3 linked regions of the Homo sapiens genome follow. The protein of the gene in region 3 purifies or fractionates together with the protein of the main gene of each other region. This does not show direct contact. Each region holds a gene or a part of one and is shown on either strand. Other genes may lie near its edges.

The links. The genes of interacting proteins can lie anywhere in the genome.
Region 1: the proteins of RSU1 (region 3) and PARVA purify together in Homo sapiens (affinity purification with mass spectrometry; 5 studies listed by BioGRID and IntAct, with this or other methods). This does not show direct contact.
Region 2: the proteins of RSU1 (region 3) and PARVB purify together in Homo sapiens (affinity purification with mass spectrometry; 3 studies listed by BioGRID and IntAct, with this or other methods). This does not show direct contact.

What each region holds. Positions count from the first base shown.
Region 1 is NC_000011.10:12,372,919-12,380,700, reverse strand, and holds the start of PARVA (alpha-parvin), read right to left. Parts: upstream 3,131-7,782; 5' UTR 3,054-3,130; coding exon 2,918-3,053; intron 1-2,917. UniProt on the Homo sapiens protein: Plays a role in sarcomere organization and in smooth muscle cell contraction. Required for normal development of the embryonic cardiovascular system, and for normal septation of the heart outflow tract.
Region 2 is NC_000022.11:44,125,189-44,132,431, reverse strand, and holds part of PARVB (beta-parvin), read right to left. Parts: intron 946-7,243; coding exon 805-945; intron 1-804. UniProt on the Homo sapiens protein: Adapter protein that plays a role in integrin signaling via ILK and in activation of the GTPases CDC42 and RAC1 by guanine exchange factors, such as ARHGEF6. Is involved in the reorganization of the actin cytoskeleton and formation of lamellipodia.
Region 3 is NC_000010.11:16,590,258-16,597,500, forward strand, and holds the end of RSU1 (ras suppressor protein 1), read right to left. Parts: intron 3,240-7,243; coding exon 3,137-3,239; coding exon of another isoform or gene 3,004-3,136; 3' UTR 354-3,003; downstream 1-353. UniProt on the Homo sapiens protein: Potentially plays a role in the Ras signal transduction pathway. Capable of suppressing v-Ras transformation in vitro.

The DNA of each region.
Region 1 (7,782 bases), on a different chromosome or scaffold from region 3:
TGGTGACTTCTGGAGAGCTCACTTCGAGCGGGTCTGGTAACAGGTTGATCTGCTAGGTATTCTCCATTTCCACCGTCCCCACTGTGATCTATTCTCTGCACTGCTCTGTGCCCTATGGACGCTGCCCCTATCTATTGCAGATCCCTTGCTCTGATGGCTTCCCACTGGGTTCAGCACCAGTAGGTGATGCACGGGCAAGAAGACAGAGAACATGCAGAATGTGCATTTATTGTGCCACTCTCTCCTTGCTCTGTCTGCATATTTCGGACAGTAGCTGCATCCCTCTATGACTATAGTTCCAGTCCAGCAGCCCCTCGTCCATAACCCCAGCTTGTAATAGGTTCCAATTTGCTTCCCTTGTCCCTCAGGCCTCGGAGTGATTAAGAGCTTCCTCCTGTTGCTAGCCCCTAGGGACCTCAGCATCCCTTCTTAGTTCCCTTAACCCTGCCCACAGCTCTGTCAATAGCCCTTTCACTAAATTATTTTCAAAATCTCAACTAAATTGGCCTTCTTTTTCCTGCAGGGACCCTGTCTGAAACTAAAGAGACAGGATGCAAAAGTCCTTAAAATTATGTCTGTGAGGAATAGAGGATGTTGGGCCTGGTGGAGAGAAGACTCTAGAAAGCAGGATAGCCTACTTCAGCAAGGTAGTAATAAAAGGCCACCCCAGACTCATTCTCTGGCTCTACCAACAGTGATAGGTACAGAGAGATAAATTTCTACAGAGTAGGTAAAGATGGTTATCCTGGTAGGTCATGAGCTTCAATATTTCTCAGTTGCCCCATCTTAAACTGGATGAGACTATGTCAGGAATGCTGCAAGGAAGAAGTTAGAAACATGGTCTAGAAAAGAGCTTCCCAAGCCAGGGTTTCATGATTTGCCACCAACTGTACACTACTCGATGGGTTACCAAAATAACCAATGTGGGGAAACTTTTGTATGTTTTTGCTGCTTCTCGTTTCAATCTAGGGAATAGAAGTCTAGTTCTTCATCAAGTCTGATAATCCTCAGCGCTGAAGATGTTTTTATACTTTAAGATGACTTACAAACATGAAAATTTCACACAGCATCACAGCTTTCAAAAGGTTATTTCTAATTCATGGAGCAATCTATTAAAAACATTTTTTAGGGGGGAAGAGAAGTTGATTAATGGTTACAAATATACCATTTGATATAAGAAGACCTAGTGTTAGATTGGTAAACTAACTATATTTTACAATAACCTCTTGTATATTTCAAAATATCTAGAATTCCAGTGGTCTAGCATAGAGAAAAGACAAATCTTTAACGTGATGGATATCCCAAGTACAGTGATTTTGTCCGAGGCATGTGAACCAGAGCAACTCCATCTTGAATGGGGCCAGGTAAAACAAGGCTGAGTGAGACCTACTGGGCTGCATTCCCAGAAGGTTAAGGCATTCTAACTTACAGGATGAGATAGGATGTGGGCACAAGATACAGGTCATAAAGACCTTGCTGATAAAACAGGTCGCAGTAAAGAAGTCGGCTAAAACCCACCAAAACCAAAATGGCGACAAGAGTGACCTCTGGTCGTCCTCACTGATACACTCCCAGCAGCGCCAGGACAGTTTACACATGCCACGGCAACGTCCGGAAGTTACCCTATATGGTCTAAAAAGAGGAGACATGAATAATCCACCCCTTGTTTAGCATACCATCAAGAAATAACCATAAAAATGGGCAACCAGCAGCCCCAGGCTGCTCTGTCTATGGAGTGGCCATTCTTTTATTCCTCTACTTTCTTAATAAACTTGCTTTCACTTTACTGTGTGGACTCACCCTGAATTCTTTCTTGCGTGAGATCCAAGAACCCTCTCTTGGGGTCTGGACTGGGACCCCTTTCCTGTGCAATTTGATCTTTACAAATTATATGAATGTATTACATTATCACATGTGCCCCAGAACTATGTACATCATGCATCAACTAAAAAATGTTTAAAACAAAAATGTTTAACTCAGCAACTTCTATCTACACACCAGTCACCACAGTGCTTCTTGAGAACTGCCACCTCGTTTTCAAACCAAAAACCAGGACGCAAAATCTGTGCATGGGAAAAAAAAATATTTTACATGCAAACTACCCTGAAAAAAAAAAAAAAAAAAAAGAATAAGGTCGCCTCAATTCACTCTGGTGGGGAAAAAACAAAGGTTTTTACGAAAGCCCTGAATGCCTGAGTTCACAGCAGGCCCATGACGAAGTTTGTGTCTCACGCAGGTTTTCTCCTTTGGTGGGAGTTTATTGTGTATTACACCGAGGGCACGCTAGGTTTGCCAGTTTTTCGCTCATTCATTCAACAAACACTCGATGTCCACCTACTCCATTAACAGAGCCCTTCTCAGCCCTCGGGATGGACAAAAGATCCCGAAGAGGCCAAAGCCACGACGCCGCTGCCAGAGGACGTCAGCAGGTCCAGGAAACGACCTGATTTTAAGGACCAATGAAGGCAACGAGTAAGAGCGACGGCGCCCAGGAAAGCTGCAGCGGAAACTTGGGAAATGCCAGCCTTCGGGCGCAGAGGGCGGGGCAGGGCCTACTGGATCGCACTGTCTGCGGGCTGGGGCCCCGCCTGGGCTCCGGTCCCGCCGCCTCCGGCCGCCAAGCGGCGCCCGCCCACGGCCCGGCGGGGGCGTTGGCCTGGTCCCCGGCCCAGGAGGGCAGCGCCCGGGCGACCGCGAGCGGGCGGGGTGGCCTCGATGGCCCGCGAGCCCCGGGCTCAGTGTGGGGTGCGCGTCGCTCCTGCCCGACGTACCCGGGAAGCGCGCGCACGCATCGCCGCGCGCCCCACCGCGCCGGGCACCCGCGGCGCGCTCCCGCCCGGTCCCAGTGCCCCGGCCCCTCGGCCCCTACGGCACCCCCGGCTCCTACCGCCCGCCCGGCCGGCCTGGCCGCACTCACCCTCCTTGGCTTTCTTCCTCCGGGCCAGGGTCCCTCCGAGTTTCCCCAAGAAGGAATCATCTTTCTTGCGGGACGGGGGCGACTTGGGAGTGGGAGACTTGGGGACAGAAGGCGACTTCTGCGGGGAGGTGGCCATGGCGCGGCGCAGGCTGCCGCGGGCCGGTCGGGACGCGGAGCTGGCGCTGGGCGGACGCAGCGGGCGGCGGCGGGACTGAGGCTGCGGCTTTCCAAACGGAAGCGGAATTATTCCAAGCATTTGAGGCAGCTCACGCTCGCCTTTCCCTTCCCTCGCTCCCTCCCTCGCTCCCTCCCTCGCGCCGCCCTCTGCCCTGGAAGGAGCTGCGCTCCCGGGGCCGCGCCTTGCGCCCCTGGGTTGCCCCAAGCAGGGAGGATGCCCCAAAACTGCCCCTTGCAGGACAGGAGGACGTGTGTGCCCAGGTTGGGAGCGGTCGAGCCGGAAAGCTTCATTTACCCAGGCTCTGTCCCCACCACACAGCCTGGCGCAAAACACATCTGAGAACCAACCCAACCCTGCTACTCTCCCGGGGTCTTCCAGCCGGCGGCTGGTGAGCTCGCTCTGCCCCAGCACTACTGCCTGTGGGGTTATCAGGCCCACGTCTTGCGCCCACAAGACTGCAGCTCCTGGAAGAAATTATTGCAGTGAACCAAAATGTGTCCAGGCCCCACCAAAGTGGGCAGAACCAATCACTCCTGAACCTATCCATGACCGTCAACCTCCTCGTCTCTACTCCCATCCAAGACTGAGAAGCTTGGAGTGCACAAGGGTAAAGCCGAGGCTTCTTATTCTTGTAAGACATCCGTGTTTCCAGCAGCTTATACAAAGGAAGATCCCACGTGGTGGTGGAAACATGAATGGGAAAAGCACAACCATGAGCTCCTACAGGACTTCCCGCAAAATTTATCCTGCCTAAATAAAAGCAAGAGAGTGACAACCAGACTCATTTGAGATAACAGGGGAGTCATACAAAGCACAGTGTTTGAAGGACTCATACTGGAAATGATTAAAAGGCACGTGTTATTGAGCTTACCCATCTCAAGTTCTCACTCTGGCTCTTTGTCCTTCTGTCTGTCTCTCACACACAGACTCACAGCACCTTGGCAACTGTGTTTCCTCCTTGTGGCCCCTTCTAGGCCACAGCTGATTGAACCTGGGTGAACACCTAATCCAAAGGGCGCTACTGCTTTACTGAAGAGCAGACGATCAGCTGGCCCCAGTTAAGACTGCACTAAGCTGGAGAGACTGTTGTCAGAAGTTGTGCTCGTGACTGATGATCATTCGCAATCAAAACTAGGGTGGCTGTTTCTAGCCACGTGCATGCTGAGGAGTAGGGAAACCAAAGAATGGAGCAAAGAAGTGTGCTCAAGAAGCCACGTGGTCTGAGTAATGGAAACCGTGGGGAGTAGCTGCTTGGACCTTGAATCTTTTCCCAGACCCCACTTGCACTTCCTGCCAGGGCCAGCTGTGCTTCTTCCCAGGAGATGTTACTCAGCCTTTTATTAACCCATCCACAGTTCCTTAAACTAAATAAAGTGACAAGCAACAGTTTCTGAGTAGAACTAAAATTTAACAAAAAGATAGTCAACAGATTCTCAACACCGTATAGGTTCATTTTATCTTAAGAGTCTTAATTTTACCTTTTTTAAAAAAAAAAAAAATCTGCTTTAGTTGGTGCCTCTTACTTAACAGCAGAAAAGTCATGATGTCTGCTAGCCTGGGAAGATTACTACAACTCCTCCTAGACAATAAATCTTAAAGGGATGGTGAGAAGCCAAAATATAAGTGTGTTTTGATTACATCATTAATCATTTTTGTTCAGGATATCAGATATAGGACATCTCCAAAAGCGTATCTCCAGCCCCGAGAGCTCTTGTCAGGGAATTAAGAGACACGTAGCTCAATAGCGGTGTGATCTTGGAAAGGTTTACTCCCTTTTCTGAGTCTCCATTTCCTCATCTACAAAATGAAATGGTTGGCACAGAACAGTGGTTTTCAAACTCGATCGTGCATCACAGTCGCTTAGAAGTTTGTTGCATTCACAGGCCCCATCTCCAGAAATTCTGATTCAGTCGATCTCAGGTGAAACCAAGGGATAGGTGTTTTTTAAACAGACTACATCAGGTGATTTCGATGTATTAATAGCTGATTCACACCCTGATGTCTTGCCATTTAGGGCTACTTTCAGCTCTTAACAGTCTGTGGTTCTTTATTCTTTCAAAAATTGCTAATATCTGTATGCAAGGCTTAGTCCTAAATGTGCCATAATCAAAATTACCCATGGAGATTCCTTCAGTTGCCCATGCATGCTTTTGCATATATAATACTCCTCAGTAATTGTTATGTTCGTTAAACTTGGAAAACCACTGAGCAAGGCTAAAAGGAGGAGTAAAGTCTTGATTGTTGAATGCTAGCTCCCAGAAAATATCAGCAAAATAAGCTGTGGAAGAAGGCAAAGCTGAATTTTTTGTACACCATGATAAGGAGAGCCCTGCCTTGGCAGAGTCTCAGTAGCATCTTGGAGTAGGGGAAGGGATATTTATAAGGTTTTGGAATCTTGATGAAGACAGGCCTTCCAGTGGGATGGTGCTTGATTAAGTTTGACTAAGGATCATGATATAATAGATAAGGACTGGTAGACCCTAGGCAAAGCTTTCCAAGAGTCTTGGAGAGTAAATAGTCTTTTTAATGCTATCTATTGAAAAGTCTAATGGGTTTATGTTCATTTCAATGAGATTTGGTGGGGAGTTCTTGAAAAGAACAAGAAAGTTATTCATAGCTTTTTATCTTCCTGGGCAAGAAATTTTTGGAAGACAGGGGAACGATAAAGTCCTGTTAATGTATGCAGTAACCTGCATTGGTGGGAATGGTTGCCAGGGTCTCAATATTATGCTGATACCTTGTTATTCAAGCATTTCTACTGGTAAGATCATTATCAATCTTTCTGGAAAGGCCAGTGGGAATGGGTGGTGAATTATAAATCAGTGCTACTCACAGTGTAGTCTGCAAACCAGTATTGATCTGGATACCATTATTAGCTGCCAAGACCAGCTTGGTCGGGGAGACCCTAACCCAGCGGCGCTAGAGGAATTAAAGACACACACACAGAAATATAGAGGTGTGAAGTGGGAAATCAGGGGTCTCACAGTCTTCAGAGCTGAAAGCCTCGAAAAGAGATTTACCTACGTATTTATTAACAGCAAGCCAGCCAGTCATTAGCATTGTTTCTATAGATATTAGATTAACTAAAAGTATCCCTTATGGGAAACAAAGGGATAGGCCGAAATAAAGGGATGGGTTGGGCTAGTTATCTGCAGCAGAAGCATGTCCTTAAGGCACAGATCGCTCATGCTATTGTTTGTGGTTTAAGAACGCCTTTAAGTGGTTTTCCACCCTGGGCGGGCCAAGTGTTCCTTGCCCTCATTCCGGTAAACCCACAACCTTCCAGCGTGGGCGTTATGGCCATCATGAACATGTCACAGTGCTGCAGAGATTTTGTTTATGGCCAGTTCTGGGGCCAGTTTATGGCCAGATTTTGGGGGGCCTGTTCCCAACAATTAGCCAATGACATAAATGTAGAAATTGAGAGTTTTTAGAAACTTTTATAGCAATTTAACAACACTTTATGTCTGTTTAATCTAACAATAATCAGAAGCTTATATTTTGAATATCTTTTCATTCTATTTTTCTAGTAATTTTTTATTTTTATTTACAAAAATATTGCTCTATGATGAATTGGTCCTTTAGCAGATTAAGAAGCACTGTTCTACATTGCTCGTGTTTACTTAGAGAGTTCATCTACTCTCATTTGATATAATGCTTTTAGAATCCTTAAGAATGTGAATTGATCTGGTTTTTGTTTAGAAGAGTAAATGAGATAATCTGTGGGAAAGCACCATCTACAGGGCCTGGCACTGAAGTAGGCTGAATCTAAATCTTACTTAGAGACATGCTGCATGCTATTCTTTGATAGGATGGGAAGACCTTGTACCAGCTCCCTCCACTCTAAATTGGTATTTACAATTATGTCCCCACTGAACAGCACCTCCTCTCATGCTCGGTCATTGTTTTCATCTTACCCAAGGGATTTGATTCTAAGGACAGATCATCAATTAAATGTGTGATACGTAAGACTCTGCTGAATCTCTAGGCTGCCTCTTCTTGAAATTGGGGCCTAGACAAATGCACTGGAAGAGAATAAACTCAGGTTCCAATCTTAGCTTAGCAGCCAGGTGATCTTGGGTAAATCTCTTCCCTTTCTGCATTTATTTTTCCCATCATCTATAAAATGAAGCCAAGGCAGTACCTACTAAAGCCAACCATCATACATACCTTATGATCAACAATTTCAATTATAGGTTATACCCAACAAAAATGAGTACATGTGTACACACAGAGATAGGCTCTAGAAAGTTCACAGCAGCACCATTCAGCTGCCTGTTAACAGTTGAATTGATTGTGATAACCACAGCAATGAGAGTGAACAATTTGCAACTACAAGCAGCAACAGGAATGGATCTTACAATATAATGTTGAGCGAAGGAAATCAGACACAAAAGAGCACATACTGTATAATTGTATTCAAGTAAAGTTCACAAACAGGCAAAACTACTCTATAATGTTAGAAGTCAGGATATTGATTAGCCTTGGAAGGTGTAGTGACTAGAATGGAGTGGGTGGCATGAGGAAAACCACTGAAGCTGCTAATGTTCTGTTTCCTGATCTGGATACTGGTTACGTGGATATATTCACTTTTAAAAATCAATGAGACATACACATAGTACTTTCAGCAGATTTTCTGTATGTATTTTATACTTCAATAAAAATCTACAGCTGGGCATGGTGGCTC
Region 2 (7,243 bases), on a different chromosome or scaffold from region 3:
CCCCTGCCTTGCCTGAGTCTGTCCTCTCTCTTCCTCAGCATGCGGACTCAGGTTTGGTCAACATCACCACTTCTCCTGCAGGGTTTTACAGTTTACAAGGCACCCGATTCCCCACCCACGGACCCAGCCACCCACGAGACAGCCTGGGTCTGCCCAAGGTCTCGATACCAAGAAACCGGGTGCAAGGCCAGGCTCCAGGGTCTCCTGCCTACCACTGAGAGCCCAGCTCACCAAAGCACGGAGACCTCTGGCCCAGCACAGAGAGCCCTGAAGCCACACCCTCATGGCCCTGCTTCCAGGGGAGGGAGGTGGGGAAGGAGTGGGCAGGACCGAGGAGAACTTTCCAGCTTCTCCTGGTTTAGTCTTTCACCTGCCGGGTTCATGTCTTGGCTGAAAATACCGTGATGTCACATCTCATAATGCCAGGGTCATAGACAAACAGCCCACTAGGTGTTGCTGCCACCAGTATTTGGGGTTGAGTCCCAACAAGAACCCCCCAAGGCTGCTTCTCTCTCTCAAAGTCCCTCTGATCCACCCATCCATAAACATTGCCTCTCTCCTCTGCAGCATGGGGAGGATGGAGAATTGTGGCCTGACCAGGTCCCTTTTCTAGGATCTCCCTAACCCTTCTCCTGTTCTTCTCCCCTGCAATGTTCTACCTCTTACAGAGCAGGGAGATGAACCCAATTTTAAGATGCAAGGCCAGATGGGATGATGATGAATGTGGATGACAAATGTGGATGACGAATGTCGAGAGGACGGGCTCCCTCCAGACAGTCCCTCCCCCTGTGGCGTGGAACTCACAGTCCACGCTCCACCGGAGCGCCCAGCCTCGGGGCCGCAGCAGGTCATGTACTGCTTCCAGCACCGTCTGCAGCTTCTGTTTCTGCCCTATTTCGGACTGTGTCACCTCAGCCACATTCAGCTTGCACCCTGCCAGTTTTTCTGCAATGAGAAGCACAAGAGAAGAGGGTCAGAAAAAGCTGGAAGGGCCAGGCGCAGTGGCTCATGCCTGTAATCCCAGCAGTTTGAGAGGCCGAGGTGGGTGAATCACTTCAGGCCAGGAGTTCGAGACCAGCCTGGCAAATATGGTGAAATCCCGTCTCTACTAAAAATATAAAAATTAGCCAGGCGTGGTGGCGCACACATGTAATCCCAGCTACTCGGGAGGCTGAGGCAGGAGAAGTGCTTGAACCCGGGAGGTGGAGGTTGCAGTAAGCCAAGATCATGCCATTGCACCCAAGCCTGGGCAACCTGAGTGAGACCCTGCCTCAGAAAGAGAGAGAGAGAGAGAGAGAAAGAAAGAAAAAGGAAGGAAGGAAGGAAGGAGAGAGAGAGAGAAGAAAGAAAAAAAGAGAGAGAGAGAGGGAGGGAGGGAGGGAGGGAGGGAGGGAGGAAGGGGAGAGAGATATACTGGAGGAACTCAAAACCACCAAGACCCCAGCCTCAAGGAGGTCCCCGAAGCGGGGCAGGTTACCATGTGGCCATGGGGGCGTCTTGAGATGTTGAACCATGAACGCTGAGCTTCCAGGTCACTAATCTTCCTTAGAGAATGACGCCAGATTGAAAAGGGAAGAATAGTTAAGGATAAAACTGTGGGTGTTATACTCGGGAACATTCTATGCATACAAAATGGAAAAAACATAATAAGATGTAGTTGAGAGGCAAGGAGGTTACCTGGGAAGAATGAAAGTGGGAGTCAGGAGGTGAGAAGACTGTCCCTGTGGGTCCCAAAAGGGAGAGGACTGATAAAGATAATTTTAAAAAAGGTCTTAAAAGCTGCCTCTGCCTCCCCACACACCTGAGGCTCCCATTCTTGTTTCTTAAACATTCTAATGCCACAATAGGAAGTTAGATTAGATATTCACAGAACTGGCGATGATTTTATTACCAAGAATGAACAGGAAACAATCCGGAGGAGCACAGACAAGAACTGTCACATTTCATCAAGATTCAATTACTGAGACTGAGCTCCAGCCCAGCCTGCACCTCCTTCAATTTCCCTTTTGTTAGCAGTAGGTACTGGCAGGTGCCGGCCACCAGCGCCCCACCCCACGCCCGCTGCAGGGCCACACAGCAGGAAGGACCCCCAGTTTCCCTGCTAGTCTTCGATTCTAAGACTCCAGTGTTTACTGATAGATCCACTCTGCAAAACAACAAAAGCGACGTCACAGAGCATCGTGAGATGGTTCACTGGGAGGGTGACTGCAAGCACTCAGCACAGAGCCTTCAATACACAGCTGCTGTCAGTGACGCGGCATTGACATGCCATCATGAAAGCAATCAAGTCCAGGCCAGTCACAAATGGGGTTTCTGTTTTGCAAGTGGTTCCCAGCACAAAGTTCTGTTTAAAACATTTTAGCTGGAGGCCCCCATGTCTTCAGTGTTATCTCCCCAGCAGCCTCCCCTCCCTCAATTAGAAAACAAACAGCTTTGGCATCCCTTTCAAGATAATAAAATTCTAGAGCAAGGCCTGCTGGGCTCGGAATACCCCTTCGATCATGCGTTTGTTGGCTCACAGATAGGGACTGAACACCTACTATGGGACAGGCACTGTCCTAGGTGCTGGATATGGCACAGATAACAGAGGTCCCTAGTGGGGAGATAAACACCCGTAAAAAACATCTGATTGGGTGGCAATGACTGCAAGAGAAAAAACAAAGCAGCCCAACAAAACACATCCTGCAGGGGAGTGGAAACGATTCCCGCTTATTCATCTGATTTCCCTCCATCTGGATCTAACAGCTCCTCGCTGAGTCATCCACAGCTGTCTGTCTGAATTTGCGCCCTGGAAGTAGAGAGCAAGTAGGTCCCACAGGTGTTCAACAACCATGGAAAGGGCAGAGCAGGGCAGCTTGGAGAAGGAAGGAGAGAGATAGGATCATACAGAACTGGGTGGTCTGAGAGCCTCGCCCACCAGGGAGATGGGAAGCCTGACGCGCCCCCGTTGCACCTGCCACCATCCGGCCCCGCAGACTGAACATGGCCACGTCACCCAGGGTGGAGGAAGAGGAGTCGGCAGAGGAGCGGAGGACACTGGATTCGTTTGTCTGGGCTGCTGCAACGAAGCATGCCACACACCGTGCGGCTTAAACAACGGAGATTTATGTCACAGCTCTGGAGGCCAGAAGTCCAAGATCAAGGCACCGGCAGGGTAGACCCTTCTGAGGCCCCTCTCCTGGCTTGTAGATGGCTGCCCTCTCCTTCCTGTGTCCTTACTTGGTCTCCCTCTGTGCATGTCTGTGTCCTAATCTCCTCTTTTTATAGGAACCCTAGACATATTGAATTAGGGCCCACCCACTCGTATGGCCTCATTTTACTTTCATTACCTCTTTTAATTTTTTTATTTTTTTGAGATGGAGTTTCACTCTCGTCACCCAGGCTGGAGTGCAATGGCACCATCTCAGCTCACTGCAACCTCTGCCTCCCAGGTTCAAGCGATCCTCCTGCCTCAGCCTCCCGAGTAGCTGGGATTACAGGCATGTGCCACCACGCCCAGGTAATTTTTGTATTTTTAGTAGAGGCAGGGTTTCACCATGTTGATCAGGCTGGTCTCGAATTCCTGACCTCAAGTGATCTGCCCACCTCAGCCTCCGGAAGTGCTGGGATTACAGGTGTGAGCCATCACACCCAGCCTATTATTATCTCTATAAATACAGTCACATTCCGAGGTTCAACCTGCAGGGCTGGCTGGTAGCAGGGACAGTGGGAGGCTGCCAGGCTACCCATCTCTCCTAGTGGGCGAGGCTCTCATACCTTGCAATGTGCCTGTATTTAAAGAGGCAGTTAAGGTAAAATGAGGTCACATGGGTGGGCCCTGCATGTAGGACTTGAAAATATGAATTTGGTGGTGGAAACAGCAGGCAACAGAGACCAAAGAGACTGGCCATGCCTGTGTGCTGCCTTAGGCTGGGTCTTGGGTGACTCCTGTGCAACAGAGAATACGGCACATGATCACTTGCATCATCAGACATCACTGTGCCCACTGGCGGGGGCCGCAGGAGCAGCTCAGGGCTCTGTTGTGGCCAGGACCCCTATCTTCCTAGCACAGAAAGAGAGAAAACTGGGGAGGATTCTCCCATGTAGCAGGTGACCCTGAGTGATGGCCACATGGGGGTTGAGTACACATGTGATGAAGAACTTCACCTTCACAAGGAGAGGGTGTGCCCGTGAGTGACCAGCAGGACGACAGCCAGGAGCTCCCACAGCACGGGCACCTCACTCTGGCCATATGCAGTCTACCTTGAGGGCTGCACTGCAAACACAGGGGAGCTACACCCCCAGAAACCTGGCATGTGGCAGAGAACCCGGCAGCTGCTTCCAGAATCTTCTCTCAAGAAGAGGGATTCGGCTGGGTGTAGTGGCTCATCCCTGTGATCCCTGCACTTTGGGAGGCCAAGGTGGGAGGATCGTTTGAGCCCAGTTCAAGACTAGCCTGGGCAACATGGCAAAACCTCAGCACTACAGAAAATACAAAAATTATCTGGGCATGGTGGTATGCATCTGTGATCCCAGCTTCCCGGGGAAGCTGAGGTGGGAAGATCATCCAAGCCTAGGGGTCAAGGCTGCAGTGAGCTGTGATCACGCCACTGCACTCCAGCCTGGGCAACAGAGTGAGACACTATCTCAAGAGAAAAAAAAAAAAAGAAGAGGGACTCCTCAGGGGTCCTGCTGGTTCACTCTGGGCAATTTCCACATGGCCAAACCAGAAGTCTGTTCTCTTTCCTCCTCTCACCTCCTAGAAACACCTCCTTTACCCTTCCTGAATGCAACACTCCTCTGGCTCCCCCTCCCTTGTGACTGACCTTTGCCAGAACTTCCTCTTCCTGACCACTAATGGCTGACAGCCCAGACCCAGTCCTCAGACCTCTTCTCTACTACGGATGCACAGAAGTTGGCTTTGACCTTGGTATTCAGCTAAAATCTCCTATTTGGTTTGGGCTTCTGCCTTTGGAAAGCCAAAGAGCTGAATGCCTACATCAGTGTCATTCCTGGCATCCTGGAGCTCAAGGATCAGGTGATCACATCAGTAGTATCACATCAAGAGGATCTCACATCAACAGTATATTATGTCATTTCAGTGTAACAACATTCACAAAATGAGGCAAGACATTCTGATGCTGTGTTACTATCTGAATATTCTAGTCCACTGTTCTTTTTTTCAGTACAAAAAAAAAAAGTGGTTTTAATATGTCAAACCACTTGACACTCAAGAGATTTTAGAATTGCCTTCTCAAGTGCTTATGTGATTATTCAAACAAGATGGAACAGCAGCTACTCCACAAGAAAAAGGCTGCTTGAGCCAAAGGAAGCCTCATGTTATACTTTATGGATAACACAACTGATATAGCAGGACTCATGGACAATCACAGCAACTCCGGAGTAAGTGCTGCATTTGCTAGCACTAACTGAAGAGGGAACCAAAAGGATGTGCCTTGAGAGGGGAAGATGCAGCTTTAAAGATGCCCCTGTAATTCTGCTCTATAGAAGGCACTGGCATGGTTTACAGGCAACCACGGCTGAGATGCAGATGCAAATTCAGAGCCTGTCCTGAGATTCTGAGGGCCAGTTCCACAGCCAGGCTGCCAGATACAAGGCTTGCTGACATACTGTTTCAAGTCATTGGGTGGGAGAAGCCACAGGTGCAGGCAAAAGAATCAGAAATAAAAAATGAAAGTGAACAAAACACTCAAGTTTGCTTCTGAAAATATTAGAAAATATCTGCTTCAGGTAGGGAGCAAAGTACCAATTGGGGGGACTGCTTCAACAGAGGGCCATCACCAGCAACAGCCCAATCTTCACATCCAAGATCAAAGAGGAGGTAAGTCTCTACCATAACCAGCCACTCAGAGAGAGAAAAACTGACAGCCCAGGGGCAGCTTCACATGAGGAGTATCCCTTCAGACAGCATCAGCCAAAGGTCCACGTGCTCCTCCAGCCTTCTGAGTTGAAAGTGAGCATCTAGCATCACAAATGTCTGGTTTGAAGACCTCAAGAGCAAGTGGTACCCAACAGTGCTGGGTGTGACTGTACTGATACTGCAATGCAAAACATCAAAACTTTGGCCACTAACGTTTTTAATAATAAAATTGTGATAATTATGACACAATCTTGATGAACATTTCAGACTTATTCTTGTACCATGGGATCTCATTCTAAGATGGGGATTCTCACCTTAGCCAAATATAGATGTTAATTCTTGGGCATTCGGCATTCAGCCAAATAAAATTTGGAACACCCTCTTTGGGTGAAGCCGTGCAGTCCCACGGTGCTAAACATCAGCTCAGTGCTGCTGGGTTCACACGTACACTGCAGCCTGGACTCCAGGCTCACCTGCTCAGCATCACCTCCAAAAGGGCAGGTATCTCAGCCCCAGCATGTACAACACAGACCCCCGCCTTCCCAACCTCCCACCCTACTCCCAACGGCTTCCCATTTACCAGTTGCTCAAGCCACAAACCTGGCCATCAGTCTTGGTTCCTATGGCAGTTTAACTGTACAGTACCTCCCCATGTCTGCCCTTCCACTCTGGGGGCTGAGCTACTTCATCAGATGCCTGGGCCATGGCAATGGTGTCCTGACTGATCTCTCAGTTCCAACTCCTGACTCTCCTCCCCATCCATCCTGCACCCAGAAGCCTAAGTGACCTTTTAAACTCTAACCCAATCCACGTCACAGCCCTACCCAAAACCTCCAATGGCTTCCTGTCACTTGGAATAGACTGTTGTCTAGCAGGGCTGAATGAGATCTGGCCCCAGCCTCATCTCTTGGCTCTCTCCCTCCCTCTCTGCCACCTGGGCCCCGCCTCCGCTTCTTTTCACTGCTCCTCCAACACAACAGGCTCTTTCTCGCTTTAGAGCCTCAGCCCAGAACGCCCTTCCCAAGCTCACTGTGCAGACATGTGCTCAGATGTCGCCTCCCCAGAGGAGCTTCCCTGGATTGCCTTCCCCAACCCCCACCCACCACTGTACCCCATAACCTTCTATTACTTTCCTCCTAGCACTTGTCATTCCTTTAAAACATCATCTAGGTTTCAGGTTGAACCACTCCACCCCATAATACTTCTCTTTCTTCACTCTGCTAGAATGTGTGCTGGGGGAGTGGGCAGGCGCAGGGTGCGGGGCTCATCTCTCTTGTTTCCCACTGTGTCTCTACAGCCAAGAGCCACCCGACACATGTAAGCCAATGAACATTCATTCATCAGATGAATGAATGAATGTGTGACCAAAACAAACACAGACAT
Region 3 (7,243 bases):
ATACAAAAATTAATTGGGCGTGGTGGCGGGTGCCGGAATCCCAGCTACTCGGGAGGCTGAGACAGGAGAATCGCTTGAACCCGGGAGGCGGAGGTGGCAGTAGGCTGAGATCACGCTATTGCATTTCAGCCTAGGTGACAGAGAGAGACTCCGTCTCAAAAAAAAAAAAGGCCACCTTTCAAACTTTGGATATTTTGTTTGCTGATCCAGATATCAAGTAACTAAAAACTGTAGGAAAAGACGTGAAATCCATTTTGGTAACAAAAAGAGAAAAAACCCTCCTGACATTTTATATTATGCCTTGAGCTTAAATATATATTTCCTGGATTGCATAATATACCATGACATACCAATTTGATTTTGAAAAATACATGCATTTAATATTTTCTGATTACAAAAGTATATGTGTTCATTAGAAAAAATTTAAGTACAGAATGAATAAGTAAAATTCTAGAAAGTCTTAGTTCACAATACAGAGATAATTTAACTGCCTTAAAATAATTGTGTTCACCTCTATTTAATTTTTATGCACACGTATTACAAACAAGCTTCCTTTTGACACAGCTGGGACCATCCTTATATAGTTAGTTTTAAAAATCTTGCTTTTTCTGTTTAATCAGATGTTATGATTCTCTCCCTTTGCCCTTATTGTTGAACAATTTTTTTTTCTTGGGAACGGAATCTTGCTCTGTCGCCCAGGCTGGAGTGCGGTGGCTTAATCTCAGCTCAGTGCAACCTCTGCCTCCCGGGTTCAATCAATTCTCCTGCCTCAGCCTCCTGAGCAGCTGGGACTACAGGCGCATGCTGCGACGCCCGGCTAATTTTTTGTATTTTAGTAGAGACGGGGTTTCACCGTGTTGCCCAGGCTGGTCTCAAACTCCTGAGCTCAGGCAATCTTCCCACCTTGGCCTCCCAAAGTGTTAGGATTACAGGCATGAGCCACTGTGCCTGGCCGTTGTTCAACAATTTTTAATGTCATAAAAGCCTCATGCAGACACACCGTAATTCATTGAACCCCTTTTCCACTGACAGGGATCAGGCTTTTCTCTGTTTTTCTTGTGTATGCAATGCTATAAGGACAATTCCTAAACATTGCAGTTTGTGGGGATCTCGGATAATTTCCTCAGGATACATTCCTAGAAATAAAAATTCTGGGCCCCAGTACACAATCTTAAGGTTTTGCCACCTATCGTCAAACTGCTACGGCCTTTCTGGAGCGAAATTTATATTCCCAGTAGCCATGTGAAAGAATGTTTATTTCATGTTACTCCTCTTGCACTTAATACTGCCTTAAAAAATATTTGCACATTTCTCTTTGTTACACATGGCTTCTTTTTGCTTTGATCTGTATACTTTTTAAAAATATTACCAGTGAGTCTTCGATGATTGCTTCATGTTTCTGGGAGGTATTTCGTTCCTGTGCGTTTCTGGAGTTTTCATCTTTTGAAAAAAATGACTCATAAGAGCCCTTCATATTGTTAGATTTTTACTAATGCTTTCTTGCTGGTTTAATTTTAGGTTAAGTCTTTCCTATCCACAACAGCAAAGGCCTTGTTCTCCCTCGTGCAATCTCAAAAGCTCAAAAGTCAATTAAAAAAATTCAGGCAGAGGCATACATGGCACCTATAAAAATGATATCAACTCTATCCCTAAACAGGGGATGGGACCTGGGGAAGCCACTTCCCACATTTAAATGTTCTATCAGGAATTTGTCTAGAAGCCAGAAGTTTAGACCTTGCTCTGTGGCCTCTCTGATTGAAATGCGAAGTCTGTTTCCTAAGTAACTCAGAACTTGTTGTTTGATTTTGATTTTTGACTTTTTTATATGCCCCAGTGGGTCCTGGTCTTGGGAGCTCAACTGGGAAGCCGAAAGGATACAGCAGAGATTTTATATGCCCCAGTGGGTCCTGGTCTTGGGAGCTCAACTGGGAAGCCGAAAGGACACAGCAGAGAAGGGCAGGCCCCCTCTCCCAGGCCATTTGACTCTCCCAGGCCATTTGAAAAGACGGTGCATCTTCACATACCATTTTTTTTGTGTCGGCCTTCTGGGGTTGACAGCCCTTTCAGTGAGCACAAAACCTCAGCTTGCATTTATTTTGATTTTCGTAGGTATCACTGTTGAAAAGAAGGAAAGCTGCCTATCACAGATGTTAAACAAACAATTGATTGTTTAATGACTCTGCAACTGTGGTTTCCACCCTGGGTGTGGTGTAGCGCGTGCACATTTACACAACTTCCTTGGCATCGAAGTCGCTTAGAAGAATGCTTCGATGCGAGCAGATTTTCCGCCGTGACAAAATACACAGTTGAGGTTTTTTCTCTCTCTCTTTCACAGTTCTTGTCTACCAGCCCCTGGCAGAAATCACCATTTCTTCGGCGAAGGAATGCTACTTTCCAAAATCCTTTGGCAGAATCTCCTAGAGATTTGTTTTTCTGCTTCCTAATTTAGAAAGTCTTCAAAGAAAAAAAAAACTTGACAAATTAATGTGAGAAGAAACGAACTGTGATTTAATTTTGCATTTCTTTCATGAAAAGTTTATCATGTATAACCAATAAAATTGGATAAGATGATTTTGGGGGAGAAAAGTAAATGAAAATGTGTTATACCCCAAGATCAGACTGTTCTTTTATTCTGAGTCAATAAGTAACATGTGATACAAACTCAAGATTTTATTAAAATCATTTGTAAGTTAAATTAGCATATCTCGGTGGTGAAGGAAGACTTTTAATAAAGCAAAATAATGAGTTAGGTGAATCAACAGAAAGAGTGAAAAGTGTTAACAGTGACATTTAAATGGTTACATGATTTTAATTATTCTTTTGATAATAAGCAACCTTGTGATATCTATTCAAGAAAAGCCAGAGCCCACTATGGAATTCGCAGTTGAATAAGAGCTTTGTTCCCTGCTTTTGGTAATGTTAAAGAAACAAATGGAAATGGTTTAAAGACCTTATAACAATCTCCCACCTAGCAAAAGAATCTAAAAGGTAAGGTGGGAAGCATTAGAAAGAGAGTGAAAAGAAAAATAAAAAAGGCCTCACACGCAGCATTGGGTTTATTTGAGAGACAGGGCAAGAGAGAATGAAGTGTTGGAGAGAGAAGGTGCTGGAAGGCCAGCCGATGCCAATCCCTTCCTTATCTGTTCTTGGCTGCCAGGGGTTTCCGGCTGATCTTTTTCGATTTGTCATTATTCTTCTTCGGTGGTTCTGGGTTGGCCTGCATGTGTCTGCCGTAGAGGCTGCAAAGACAGAGAAAGGACACTATCAGATCTATTTTGCCAACACAAGATAGCTTTCACTGGAAGAGCTTTCAGGAATAGAAGAATCTCCAAAAATATTCAGTAAGCCAAAGAAAACCAAAAGATCACTTCTGTGTTCTCTGGGTGCTACGCTGTGTTGAATATAAAATTCTCTTACACATGCACGCCATGCCATGATGTCCGATCACGGACCAGTCTCTTGGGATTTCACACTCACTGGGAGAAGTGGTCAGGCCCTGCTCAGCCGTTCTGGACTGAAGTTCAAAAGCTTATGAGTGTTTAAGTCGACAGTGATAAAAATGGGATTGAATGGAAGAGACAGAGTGTCCATTTAGTGAAAAGCGAGCATGATGCTTGGCCCGAAAGCCCAGGGGCTGGCTAATGGGACAGAGAGCAATGGTGTCCAAATCTGTGCTGGCTGCTCACCCATGATGGATAGCGTGGGGCTGGCCACCACACATCAATGCCACATTAATAAGTACCGCTGATTAAATGCTGACAAAGTGCCCTATAATTACGGTGGATGGCATTCATTGCGCAGCGAAGCTGGCTCCGTGGCTGAGAGGATTTAACTGAACAGCAGAAGGTAATTAATCGATAATTTATGAGTAATTCTGATTAAACCAAATTAAAAGCCACCCTAAAATAAATACAGCTCAAACTTAACTCCTTTTATTGATATAACTGTGTCTCCAAGAGAGCCTGGTGGGTGTCTCAGGTCCTCTGCAGCAAGGGCATACCCGGCTCCACAGCCCGCAGTTGCTGTGAATGAGGGTTGGCACAGAGCCTGACGTCCCTGTACCAGGTGGCCCAGCTCCAGCATCCACACAAGGAATATGCACACTCTCTGGATGCTGGCATCTTGGGCTGTTTAGCATATACTGGCGTCCGGCATTTTTTTTTTTTTCCTGAGTGTCTCACTCTGTCACTCTGCTCCCCAGGCTGGAGGGCAGTGTATGATCATAGCTCACTGCAGCCTCAAACTCCTGGGCTCAAGCGATCTCATGGCTCAGCCTCCTGAGTAGCTGGACTACAGATATATGCCACCATGCCTAGCTAATTAAAAAAAATATATATATCATATATAATATCTATTATATGATATATATGATAGATAATATGATATATATGATATATATCATATATTATCTATATCATATATTATCTGTATATTATATGTATCATAGATAATATATGATACATATAGATAATATATCATATATATCATATAAAATATACTATATTATCTATTATATATCATATATATATATATTTTTTTTTTTTTGAGATGGAGTCCTATTGTGTTGCCCAGGCTGGAGTGCAGTGGTGTGATCTTGGCTCACTGCAACCTCTGCCTCCCAGGTTCAAGCAATTCTCCTGCCTCAGCCTCCTGAGTAACTGGGCTTACAGGCATGCACCACCATGCCCAGCTAATTTCATATTTTTAGTAGCAATGGGGTTTCACCATGTTGGCCAGGCTGGTCTTGAACTCTTGACTTCCAGTGATCCACCCACCTTGGCCTCCCAAAGTGCTGAGATTCAGGCGTGAGCCACCATGCCCCAACAAAAAAATTATTTTAATAGACATGGGGTCTCACTAGGTTGCCCAGGCTGGTGTTACACTCCTGGCCCCAAGCAATCCTCCTGCCTTGGCCTCCCAAAGTGGGATTACAGGGATGAGCCACTGTGCCTGGCGTCCAATACTAGTGTTCTTGATGACATCTCCACCATGGCTGACAGGCAGAGGGGAAGGGCTGGCAGATGGAACTGCCCAGTTGATTTTGTGATCCAGGAAAGCTGGACACTATGGTTTTGAAAGGCCATACTGTATTCTAACTATTCCAGTCTTCCAAGTGTTGCCTTGGAGGCGGTACAAGCAGGTTCCATCGGCGGTCACTCTCACGGAGTGTAGAACACAGGGTTCAGAGCTGGCCAGAGACAGACCTACGAGCCGGAGCGTGCACATCCAGCCAGGTGCTGGGATTGCACTCCAGGAAAAGGGGAGGCCATTCTTTTGCATCAAGAAGTTTCCATATGTCCTAGACAGAGAACATAAGAGCCTGCAAATTGGCTTTCCACATCTCTAGGAATTAGTTTGGAGGCCTTTTTGCTTGTGTAATGGAGACAGTAGCCCTGTCCTGACCAGCCCGGCTGTGCCTCCTCTGAAGCCACAGAAGAAGAAACAACTCCTTAAGAGAATCTGAACTTCGGGAGGGTAAGGCAGGCAGATCACGAGGTCAAGAGATGGAGACCATCCTGGCCAACATGGTGAAACCCCATCTCTACTAAAAAAAAGAAAAAATTAGCTGCGCATAGTGGTGCATGCCTGTAGTCCCAGCTACTCAGGAGGCTGAGGCAGCAGAATTACTTGAACCTGGGAGGCAGAGGGTGCAGTGAGCTAAGATCACACCACTGCACTCCAGCCTGGCAACAGAGTGAGACTCTGTCTCAGAAAAAAAAAAATCTGCTCCATGAAAGCGCATTTTTCAACCTATAGGGGCTCCCCCAACCTACACTTTTAAAAGGGTCACGGGTCCCCCTGAAGACGAGGCCATGGGCACCTGGGGGTCCTGGGTCCTGTGTCCCAGGTGGGAGACCACTGGTTTAGATAGGGAGTAAAGTTCAGCGGGTCCAACCTTGTCTCTGTTGCTGCCCCCAATTTCCAAAGATACCTGTGTTCAAGTCCTGAAACCTGGGAGTATGTTACCTTACATGACAAAAGGGGCTCTGCAGGTGTCGAAGTTAAGGACCACCCTGCATTAGCCATGTGGACTCAACCCGTGTTCCTCCTCCTCGGCATCTCTCCCAGACACAACAGATAGGCAGAGGAAATGCTCAAAGTAGATCCCTCCATTCTATTCCTCATCCTCCAAGCTCCGAAACATGCGTACTCCTCTAACAGCACCTGCCCTTGTCCTCAGATGTTGATCTACTCAGGGCCACTGACTCAATGCTCAAGGGCTTAGCACTGCAGAGTAATAAACCCTGGAGGCATCAGGTCTCCAAGCTCCCCTCACCTGGCAGGAAGCAAGGGTCTGACTCTGTGTCTTCACACAGGCACCTACGGCCTAGGTAGCTTCAGCTACACACACAGCTTCCTTCCAGCCTCAGAGATCTTTCCTCTGTTTCCCAAACCCCTTATCCGCACAGAGCAAAAAAATACGTATGTACATTTTTATTCAAAGATAGTTTCAAACTTTAAGGATTATTATTATTATTTTTTCAGATGGAGTCTTGCTCTGTCACCCAGGCTGGAGTGCAGTGGCAGTATCTCAGTTCACTGCAGCTTCTGCCTCCCGAGTTCAAGTGATTCTCGTGCCTCAGTCTCCCAAGTAGCTGGAATTACAAGTGTGTACCACCATGCCTGCCTAATTTTTGTATTTTTAGTAGAGAGGGGGTTTCGCCACGTTGGACATGCTGGTCTCAAACTCCTGACCTCAAACGATCCACCCACCTTGGAAAGGCTGGGATTACAGGCGTGAGCCACGCACCTGGCCTCCAAACTGTAAGGATTCTAAAAGTTGACAGAAAGATGACTCCACTGTTCATGCCCATGGAAACCTAGCAATACCCGAGTGTAAGGAAAGAGTCTTGGCAATGATAAGAGGTCAGCAGAGGGAGAGGAGCAGTAGGAATTGAGAGGAATTGACAAGGCCCTGCTTCGAGTCAAGTGTTGAATGCGGGAAGGGCTGAGGTGGGTGTTCAGCTTGGCCCTGACGATGGGGATCCAGGCAAGCGATTTCAGAAGGGGTTGCAAAAGCTGCAGGGCTCTTCTCCTTTTTCGGAGCGAACTGGAATGTTCCACTGTTTCAGTCTCTGCCTTTTTATATTCAGATCCCACTGTGTGTGTCTGAACATCCTGGGGCTGCAGAACAAGTCACTACAAAGGGCCAGGTGGGAGCCAGTGGCCCTGAACTTGCTGCTCAAATCCTGCTTTTGACGTTTATTAGCTGATGACTCTGGGCAAATGATCAGCAATGTTT